Regions from separate parts of the Homo sapiens genome. Here region 1 is linked to region 2. Evidence: fine-mapped expression QTL. A gene starts in region 2. The other region holds a variant in brackets. All regions are shown on one strand. Distances are from middle to middle. Region 1 has its middle 28 kb from the start of MFSD2A. Region 2 holds the start of COL9A2 (collagen type IX alpha 2 chain).

What was found. PIP is the estimated chance that this variant, and not a neighbour inherited with it, causes the effect. A credible set is the group of variants that fine-mapping cannot tell apart.
Region 1: its variant is the best candidate, but not a certain one, in a credible set for the expression of COL9A2 in whole blood (GTEx, PIP 0.60).

Annotation. Positions count from the first base shown.
Region 1 is chr1:39,980,853-39,985,238 of GRCh38, forward strand. No RefSeq gene overlaps it. Among named protein-coding and RNA genes, the nearest start is that of MFSD2A, 28 kb to the left of the region's middle. RefSeq lists an enhancer at 1-374. The variant AC/A (reference allele first, on the strand shown) is at 2,026.
Region 2 is chr1:40,315,338-40,319,723 of GRCh38, forward strand. COL9A2 (collagen type IX alpha 2 chain) reads right to left here and starts at 1,949. Exons shown (of 32, transcript NM_001852.4): 1 at 1,786-1,949; 2 at 253-327. The coding sequence starts at 1,860. RefSeq lists enhancers at 1-23, 807-1,443, 1,444-2,080 and silencers at 194-253, 264-363, 1,124-1,633.

The sequences.
Region 1 (4,386 bases), 330 kb before region 2:
GGGTGGCGTAGGAGGAAGCTGGGATGTCCTAGGGCTACTGAGGGTCAGAGAAATAGGAAAGGGCAGGACTGTTTGCCCTTACTGTGTTTCATAAGAGATGGGGAATGAGTCCTAAAGTCTCTCTTTCTCCTGTCTGCCACTACAGTCACCGCAGTCACTCTCCCAGTACCTTCCCCTTCAGTGACTCCCATCTGGCCCAGGTGGCCATCCGTGTGGCCTCAAAGGATGTCAGTACCAGAGAAGGCCCAAGAACTACCCAGCCTAGACTCCAGGCTCAGAGAGGACAAGGAAGTTGCACAAGGTCACACAGCCAGCCACAGGCAGAAGGAGAGAATCTGTCTCACTCCTAGCTCAGAGTTATTTTTGTTTTCCAACCAATTTTTTTTTTTTTTTGAGACAGAGTCTCACTCTGTTGCCCAGGCTGGAGTGCAATGGTACGATCTCGGCTCACTGCAACCTCCGCCTCCTGGGTTCAAGCAATTCTCCTGCCTCAGCCTCCCAAGTAGCTGGGATGTGCGCCATCACGCCCGGCTAATTTTTGTATTTTTCGTAGAGACGGGGTTTCGTCATTGTTGGTCAGACTGGTTTTGAACTCCTGACCTCAGGTGATCTGCCTGTCTCGGCCTCCCAAAGTGCTGGGATTATAGGTGTGAGGCACCGCGCCTGGCCATTTTTTCCCACCAAATTTATCAGTTCCTTCTTTTCTTTCTTTCTTTATTTCCTTTCTCTCGTTCTTTCTCCCTTTCTCCCTTTCTTCTTCCTTTCTTCCTTTTTCTTTTCTTTCTCTCTTTTTTTTTTTCAAGGTCTCACTCTGTCCCCTAAGCTGGAGTACAGTAGTGTGACCATGGCTCACTGCAACCTCGAAATCCTGTGCTCAACAAATCCTCCTGCCTCAGCATCCTGAGTAGCTGGGACTAGAGGCGTGCCACCTTGCCCAGCTAATTATTTTATTTTTTGTAGAGACAGGGTCTCCCTATGTTGTCCAAGTTGGTCTTAACTGCTGAGCTCAAGTGACCCTCCCTCCTTGGCCTCCCAAAGTACTGAGATTACAGATGTGAACCACCTCCTGGCCTGTCCGTTTCTTAAGAACCAAGACTTTTGTCCTGTGTCCTTCCCTCCCTTTTCACTGCCATCAGGGCTCAGACTCCAGAGCTAGTCCTCCAGCAATCTATGGCTTTCAGCAGATGGGTTTGGCCATTTCTGTTAACACAAAGGGACAACTCATAGTGTGGGAGGGGCTGTTCTACTCCTTGCTGTTCCTTAAAGGAGTAGCAGAGGCAGAGGACGAGACCTAGGCTGTCTAATCCAACCCCACCTGATGCGTGGATGCCTGTGGCTGCCTTCTGCTTGCTCATGCCTTTGGCAGCCAGCTCATTTTGGCTCAAGGCAGCCTGTTTCATTTGTGGAGAAGGGCATAAAAAAAGGTTTCCTTCATCTTGAAAGCTATCTCCTTGTGGCTTGTCCCCACAGATTCTAGATCCTCTCTTTGGCATCTGCACAATACAACCCTTCTCTTTGTCCCATGGAAGACCTGCATAAATTTGAAGACAGATCTTGTCCCTAGAAATGAGATCAAGGCCTGTCATTCTTCTAGTTATACTTGTTTTAGTAGTCTATAAAGACCAAGCATTTATTTTGCTTTTGTAATTAAAAATAAACAAAAAACTCCTTACTTTTCAATGTTTTATTGAGATATAATTTACATTCAGGAGGCTGGGCGCGGTGGCTCACGTCTGTAATCCCAGCACTTTGGGGAGGCCAAGGCGGCTGGATCACCTGAGGTCAGGAGTTCGAGACCAGCCTGGCTAACATGGTAAAACCCCGTCTCTACTAAAAATACAAAAATTAGCCGGGTATGGTGGTGCATGCCTGTAATCCCAGCAACTCGGGAGGCTGAGGCAGGAGAATTGTTTGAACCTGGGAGGCGGAGGTTGCAGTGAGCGGAGATCGCACCACTGTACTCCAGCCTGACAACAGAGTGAGACTCCGTCTCAAAAAAAAAAAAAAAAAAAGAAATCTTTACTT[AC/A]CCCAATATCAAAAAAATTATCTTATGTTTTTATTTAGAAGTTGTTTTATTGTTGTTTTATACTTTTTTTATTTAGGTCTATGATCCACTCAAATTAATTTTTGTGTATAGTGTGAGTTAAGGGTCAGAGTTTATTTTTCTCTGTACTTATCCAATTATTCCAGCACCTTTTATTAAAAGGACGTCCCTCCCCTACTTGATTACAGTGGCATAAATCAAAAGAACCTATATGTGTAGGTCCATTTTTGGACTCTATTTTTTTTTTTTTTTTTTTTTTGAGACAGAGTCTTGCTCTGTCGCCTAAGCTGTAGTGCAATGGTGCGATCTCGGCTCAATGCAACCTCCATCTCCCGGGTTCAAGCAATTCTCCTGCCTCAGCCTCCCCAGTAGCCGGGATTACAGGCACACGCCACCACACCCGGCTAATTTTTGTATTTTTAGTAGAGGCGGAGTTTCACCATATTGGTCAGGCTGGTCTCAAACTCCTGACTTCAGGTGATCCACCTGCCTCGGCGTCCCAAAGTGCTGGGATTACAGGCATGAGCCACCGTGGCTGGCCCTGGACTCTTTATCCTGTTCAAGTGATCTACTCAGCTATTCTTACTCCAAGAGTCCCCTGTCTTAATTACTATAGATTTATATAGTAAATGTTGAAATTTGGTAGTGTAAGTCTTTCAACTTCAAGGTTTTGTTTTGTTTTGTTTTTGAGATGGAGTTTCACTCTCTCCCAGGCTGAAGTGCAATGGCGCGATCTTGGCTTATTGCAACCTCCACCTCCCAAGTTCAAGCGATTCTCCTGCCTCAGCCTCCCAAGTAGTTGGGACTACAGATGCCCGCCATCATGCCCAGCTAATTTTTTTGTACTTTAAGTAGATAGGGGGTTTCAGCATATTGGCTAGGTTGGTCTTGAACTCCTGACCTCAGGTGATCTGCCTGCCTTGGCCTCCCAAAGTGCTGGGATTACAGGTATGAGTCACCATGCCTGGCCAAACTTCAAGGTTTTTGGATTGTCCATATGTATTTTGGAATCAGCTTGTCAATGTATGCGTGTGCACACACACACACACACACATACACACACAGAATGTGCTGGGAGTTTGATGGAATTACACTGAATCTATGAACTAATTGGAAAAAACTGGCATCTTAACAATATTGAGTCTTCTAATTTATGAACATGAAATATCTGTCCATTTATTTAGGTCGTGTTTAATTTATGTCAAGAATGTCTTATAGAAACAGGCATGGTGGTGCATGCCCGTAGTCCCAGCTACTTGGGAGGCTGAGGCAGGAAGATCACCTGAGCCAGGGAGTTTGAGACCAGCCTGGCCAAAATAGTGAGACACTGTCTCTTAAAAAAGAGAGAGGGCCGGACGCGGTGGCTCACACCTGTAATCCCAGCACTTTGGGAGGCCAAGGCGGGTGGATCACAAGGTCAGGAGTTCGAGACCAGCCTGGCCAAGAAGGTGAAACCCCATATCTACTAAAAATACAAAAAATTAGCCGGGTGCAGTGGCAGGCGCCTGTAATCCCAGCTACTCGGGAGGCTGAGGCAGGAGAATCGCTTGAACTCGGAGGGCGGAGGTTGCAGTGAGCTGAGATCGCGCCACTGCACTCCAGCCTGAAAACAGAATGAGACTCTGTCTCAAAAAAAAAAAAAAAAGAGAGAGAGAGAATGTTTCAGGTTGAGGTCTTTTTTTTTTTCTTTGAACATTTATTATGATTCTTTTTACATTTTTTGTAGAGGTGGGGTCTTGCTATGTTGCCCAGGCTGGTCTCCAACTCCTGGGCTCAAGCAATTCTCCCACCTCAGACTCCCAAAGTGCTGGGATTATAGGCATGAGCCACCACTCCTGGCCACAGGTTAAAATCTCAAACATCTTTCAATAGATTTATTCCTAAGTATTTGATATTTTTGATACTGATGTAAATGATATTTTTTGTAAATTTCATTTTCTAATTTTTTTGTTGCTATTATAAAGAAATACATTTGTATGTTGATCTCATATCCAGTAGTCTTGCTAAATTCACATATTAATTATATGAAACCTCTACATTTTTAATTTTGAAAACATTTGCATTGATCTTAAAGTTCAAGCTAGTATTTTGATTATTTTAAAACTTCCTAGGCCGATGGGCGCAGTGGCTGATGACTGTAATTCCAGCACTTTGGGAGGCCAAGGCAAGAGGACTGCTTGAACTCGGGAGTCTGAGACCAGCTTGGGCAACATGGTGAAACTCTGTCTCCACAAAAATACAAAAATTAGCCAGGCATGGTGGTGCATTCCTATGGTCCCAGCTACTCGGGAGGCTGATGCGGGAGGATTGCTTGAGCTCATGATTGCACCACTGCACTCCCG
Region 2 (4,386 bases):
TGAGCTGCGGCCGGCGGACTGAACAGCAGCTCCTTGTCTGTCGGCGGCTATAACGGGCTCCGCATGTCAGGGCTGGTTTGAGGTTTTTGCAGAACAAACGGCGTCCTTGTGGTGCGGGCCGGCGCCGCCTATTGGCGACGAGGGGCACTACATCTCCGGGCACCCCGAAGTCCCCACCCCCACCACAGCGCTCACAAAGTTCTCCTTTGTCTGCCGCCTCCCTCCCGCCCTGGTCTCAGGTTAGAGACTTACGTCGATGCCGTCGGATCCAGGCACTCCCGGCGGTCCCGGGGGACCCGGGGGGCCCCGCTCTCCCGGTGGACCTCTCTGAAAAACACACACGGGGTGGGGCAGTCCTCAGACAGTGCAGGAAGCTGGGCGTCCCCGGGGCTGCAAGCGACCCTGGGAGCGGGGTCCTAGGGGCGCAGCTCTTCCGCGAACTCCCACGTATTGAGAATCTTCTGTATAGCAGGCACTGTGTGCCATTACATGCATTCATTATCTTACAGAATACTCAGAACCGGGAGGCGGGCGCTATTACGGGCCCCAGTTTGCAGTCGAAGAAACTGGCTCAGAACGTGAAGGGTCCATGGTCACTGAGAGTGGGCGGCGGCGCCAGGAGTCCGCCCTGGATCTGCCCGACTCCTTCCACTGTGCCAGTTTGCCCTTGCGCGGTCGCGGTGGGGAATAGATGGAGACGTGGACAGCTCAAATAAATCACAGATGGAATGTAAGGTTGTGCCTAGCAGGCTGCCGGCCCTCAGTGAGCGGTGGCTCGGGTTGTTGTTCTTACGTGAACGACAGGCAGAGACAGCGCCTCCTCCTCTCCCCATGGTGCGGGAAAACCCGACGGGAAAGTGGGGGAGGCGCAGAGAAAGGAGGTGTAGGGAGGTGAAGCGGGTACTATCTTCCCACTCGGAGCGCCCCTTCGGCAGCACAGCTGCCCGGTCCTCCCTCTGCTAAGCCCTGACTGCTGCAGGGGAGCAGGAGGAGCCGGCACCTCCCAGAAAGCAGACCCTCTCTCTGGATCCCGTTTGCCTGCAATTCAATGCCCCTGGGTGGGTGTGAGGTTTCAGGGAGGTCACAAGTCATATCAAGATGAGGCGAGCTCACAGCTGGAGAGTCTCCATCCTGCTGCCCATCTCTGAACAGATCAGAGATCTTAAAAGGCGGCCCTTTTAAGAGGCCAGCTCGGACCCAGGCAGGGGTCCCGGTGCCCACGACCTCCCCAGGCCGCGAAGTGCCAGGCTGGCGCCCCGCAGGCGAGCTCGAAACCACACCCAGCACCCGACCGGGCCCAGTCTCTGCCCTACCCGCGCGCCCGCAGCCCCCGGCGGCCCTCGGAAGGGAGACGTGGGTAGGCGGGCAGGGCCGAGAGGCCGCCTCGGGGCGACAGCGGCGTCTGGTTGGAGCCGGCGCCCCCTGGGAGGCGGCGGGGGCGGAGGCTGCGCAGCGGGTGAATGAGCACCATTGTATGCCCCGCCACCTGGGCTCCCCGGGCTGCCAGGACCGGGCGCCAGCTCCTGCCCCACGCTGCCTGTCCCGGGCCGGGCCGCGCGTCTGGGGACGGGTCCCGTTTGACTCTCCGGCTCAGCCACCTCCATTCACGGTGCCGCGATGGGCACCATGTATGCACCCACCGAGGGGACCTGCCCGCGGCGCTGTCCTCAGGTGGCCTCTCGGGCTAGGGGTGTCAGTAGGCGCGGGACACAGGCAGAGCTCCTCCATCCCGGACTCCAGACCCCGCACCCTGGACCCTGGCAGCGGAGGGGCTGCGAAACTTACAATCTGCGCCAGAGCGAGCACTACCACCTGGAGGAGAACAAGGAGGCTGCGGGGGGAGGCCGTAGCGGCGGCCATGGCTGGCGGCGAGACCAAGGGGGACGGGTGCGTGTCCGCGCACGCACCGACGGCAGAGTCTCCCGGCGCTCCTCCAGCGCTGGCTGTTCGCGGGCAGGGTGGGCTGGGGCTCCTGAATATGCGGGGGGCGGGGCGGGGGCCGGCGTGAGCTGTCACCTGAGAGGACCGGCGGGGTTGCCGGGAGGGAGGCCGGCGCCAGGCATCCAGCTCCGCCCCGCTCGGTCCAGCCTCCTGCGCCCACCCTCTGTCCTCGAGGGGCGACCGGGGTGCGGGTCGGAGATGATGGTCCAGTTTCTTTGTGAGAAGGCATAAGGCCGTCTGAGGTTCCCCTCGGGACCTTCAGGCCCCAGCACCTTCCCCCTGACGCACAGCCTGTGCCCCATCACTTACCCTACGTCCTCTCCAGGGCCCAGGCCGAGAGCACCTCGGGCTCTGCAGATCTTGCTGCAGGCTCTCCCCAGCTCCCGCCCACCTTGCTCCCCTCTCCTCTGGCTCCTTCCTCTCCAAGCACAAACAAACAGGCCTTTTCCATATTAATATGCCACAGTCCTTCCTGGATCAGCCGTCTCATGAATACTCCATCGGCCTCTTCCAGCTCTTTAGTGGAGCTGTGTGCACCTCCCCCACCCCCGAACTTCCTCACCTCGCTTTCACCTCCCTACTCTGTCCCAACAAGCAAATCTGTCTCCTGGAGGTCTGCAGTGAAGCCCAACCCTTCTTCGGTCCTCCAGGCAGGAAGCTGTTGGCATCTTCACCTGCCCTTGAAGTCTTCCCCATCCAAGCTCCTGCCATCCAGCTCCCCTTTTTCTATTGCCTTTAATTCTCTGCAGCTGCCTTAAGCACTGGTGTGTTTAGGATTGGGCCTTCTCACTCCATGTTCATAGAAACAACTACCACTTTATTCACCAGAGTTTCCGAACCCCGCTGTCCAGCATAGCCCGACTCCAGAGAGCCTTCCCTTCCCTCCCACTCACTTAGGCAATATTGGTAAAATGCTTTGGAATCTGACTTTTTCACAATTATAGATATGACCACAGGCACCCCAAACTCTATGAAGTCTCATTTTCCTCATCTGTAAAATGGGGATACTAATAGTCCATATATATATATATATATATTTTTTTTTTAAGACAGAGTCTTAAAAGGCTCTGGAGTGCAGTGGCACGATGTCAGCTAACTGCAACCTCGCCTCGCGGGTTCAAATGATTCCCCTGCCTCAGCCTCTCGAGTAGCTGGAATTACAGGCATGAGCCACAATGCCTGGCTAATTTTTATATTTTTAGTAGAGATGGGGTTTCGCCATGTTGGCCAGACTGCTCTTGAACTCCTGACTTCAGGTGATCTGCCTGCCTCAGCCTCCCAAAGTGTTGGGATTACAGGCATGAGCCACCGTGCCCAGCAAATTGTCCTTATCTTAAAGGGTTTTTGTGGAAATTGAATGAGATGACTCATGCGAGGCATTTAACCTCGAACCAGCACATAGTAGGTGCTTGATACATTTTAGCTTTCCTTATGATTTATGGATGACTGTTTTACTAGGTTGGCATCCAATGTGGGGAAGCTGGCCACAGGCAGATCAGCTAAAATGATGAACCTAGTTGAAGCTAGAAAAGTCCAACTCCATTGGGCAGGTTAGCAAAGGGCTCTGGATTTTGAAAGGTTGTCCTGGAGCTGAGTTTGGGAGAAAGAGCTTGAGAGAATGTAATTGCTCTGCCTAACAGAGTGAAGAAGAATTTGAAGTTTGTTGGAAGATGAGAGCAAGAGGAGGAGGATGTAAGAGAGGGATGGTGGGCATTGCTTGGGGTGGGTGGGGTAAACCTATAAAGGATTTTTAGAACTGGGATGTCCAAATTCAATTTTAAGTTGTTTGTTTCACATCACTTATCTCTCCATCTTTTGTGGGCTAACCACAAGAAAGGCCTTGTGTGAGTAAGTTTTCTTTTTGTGTGTGGAAATTATGGAAAGAGGATGAGTTTCACAGTCTGGACAGCACACATTGATGTATTAATTACCTGTTGCACCATAACAAATCACCCTAACATTCAGCAGCTTAAAATGACAATTTCTTTGGATTAGGAATTTGAGAGTGACTCTGCTGGTTCGGTCTGGCCTGGGGTCTGTTATAAGGTCATAGTCAGATGGTGGCTGGGCCTGATGTCACCTAGAAGGCTTCTTCACTCACATGTCTGATGTCAGTACTGGGAAGCCTTCAACCGCTGGGGCCGGAACAGCTGGAGTTGCTTGGACAGTTCTCTCCTTTATCTCTTTGTGGGCTTTCCATGAAGTTTCTCCAACATGGCAGCTTCAAGGTAGCTGAACATCCTCTATAGCAGCTCAGAGGGAGTAGGAGAGCACCAGACTGAAGAGAATTGCCACTCAGGACCCGTCCTTGGAAGTCATGCAGTGGCACCTTCACCACATTCTTACTGTTGAGGCAATTGCAAAGGTCTGCCCATGATCAAGGGGAGGGAACAGAGACCCCACCTCAAGGATGAATGTTAATGTCACATTTTTTAATTTTTTTTT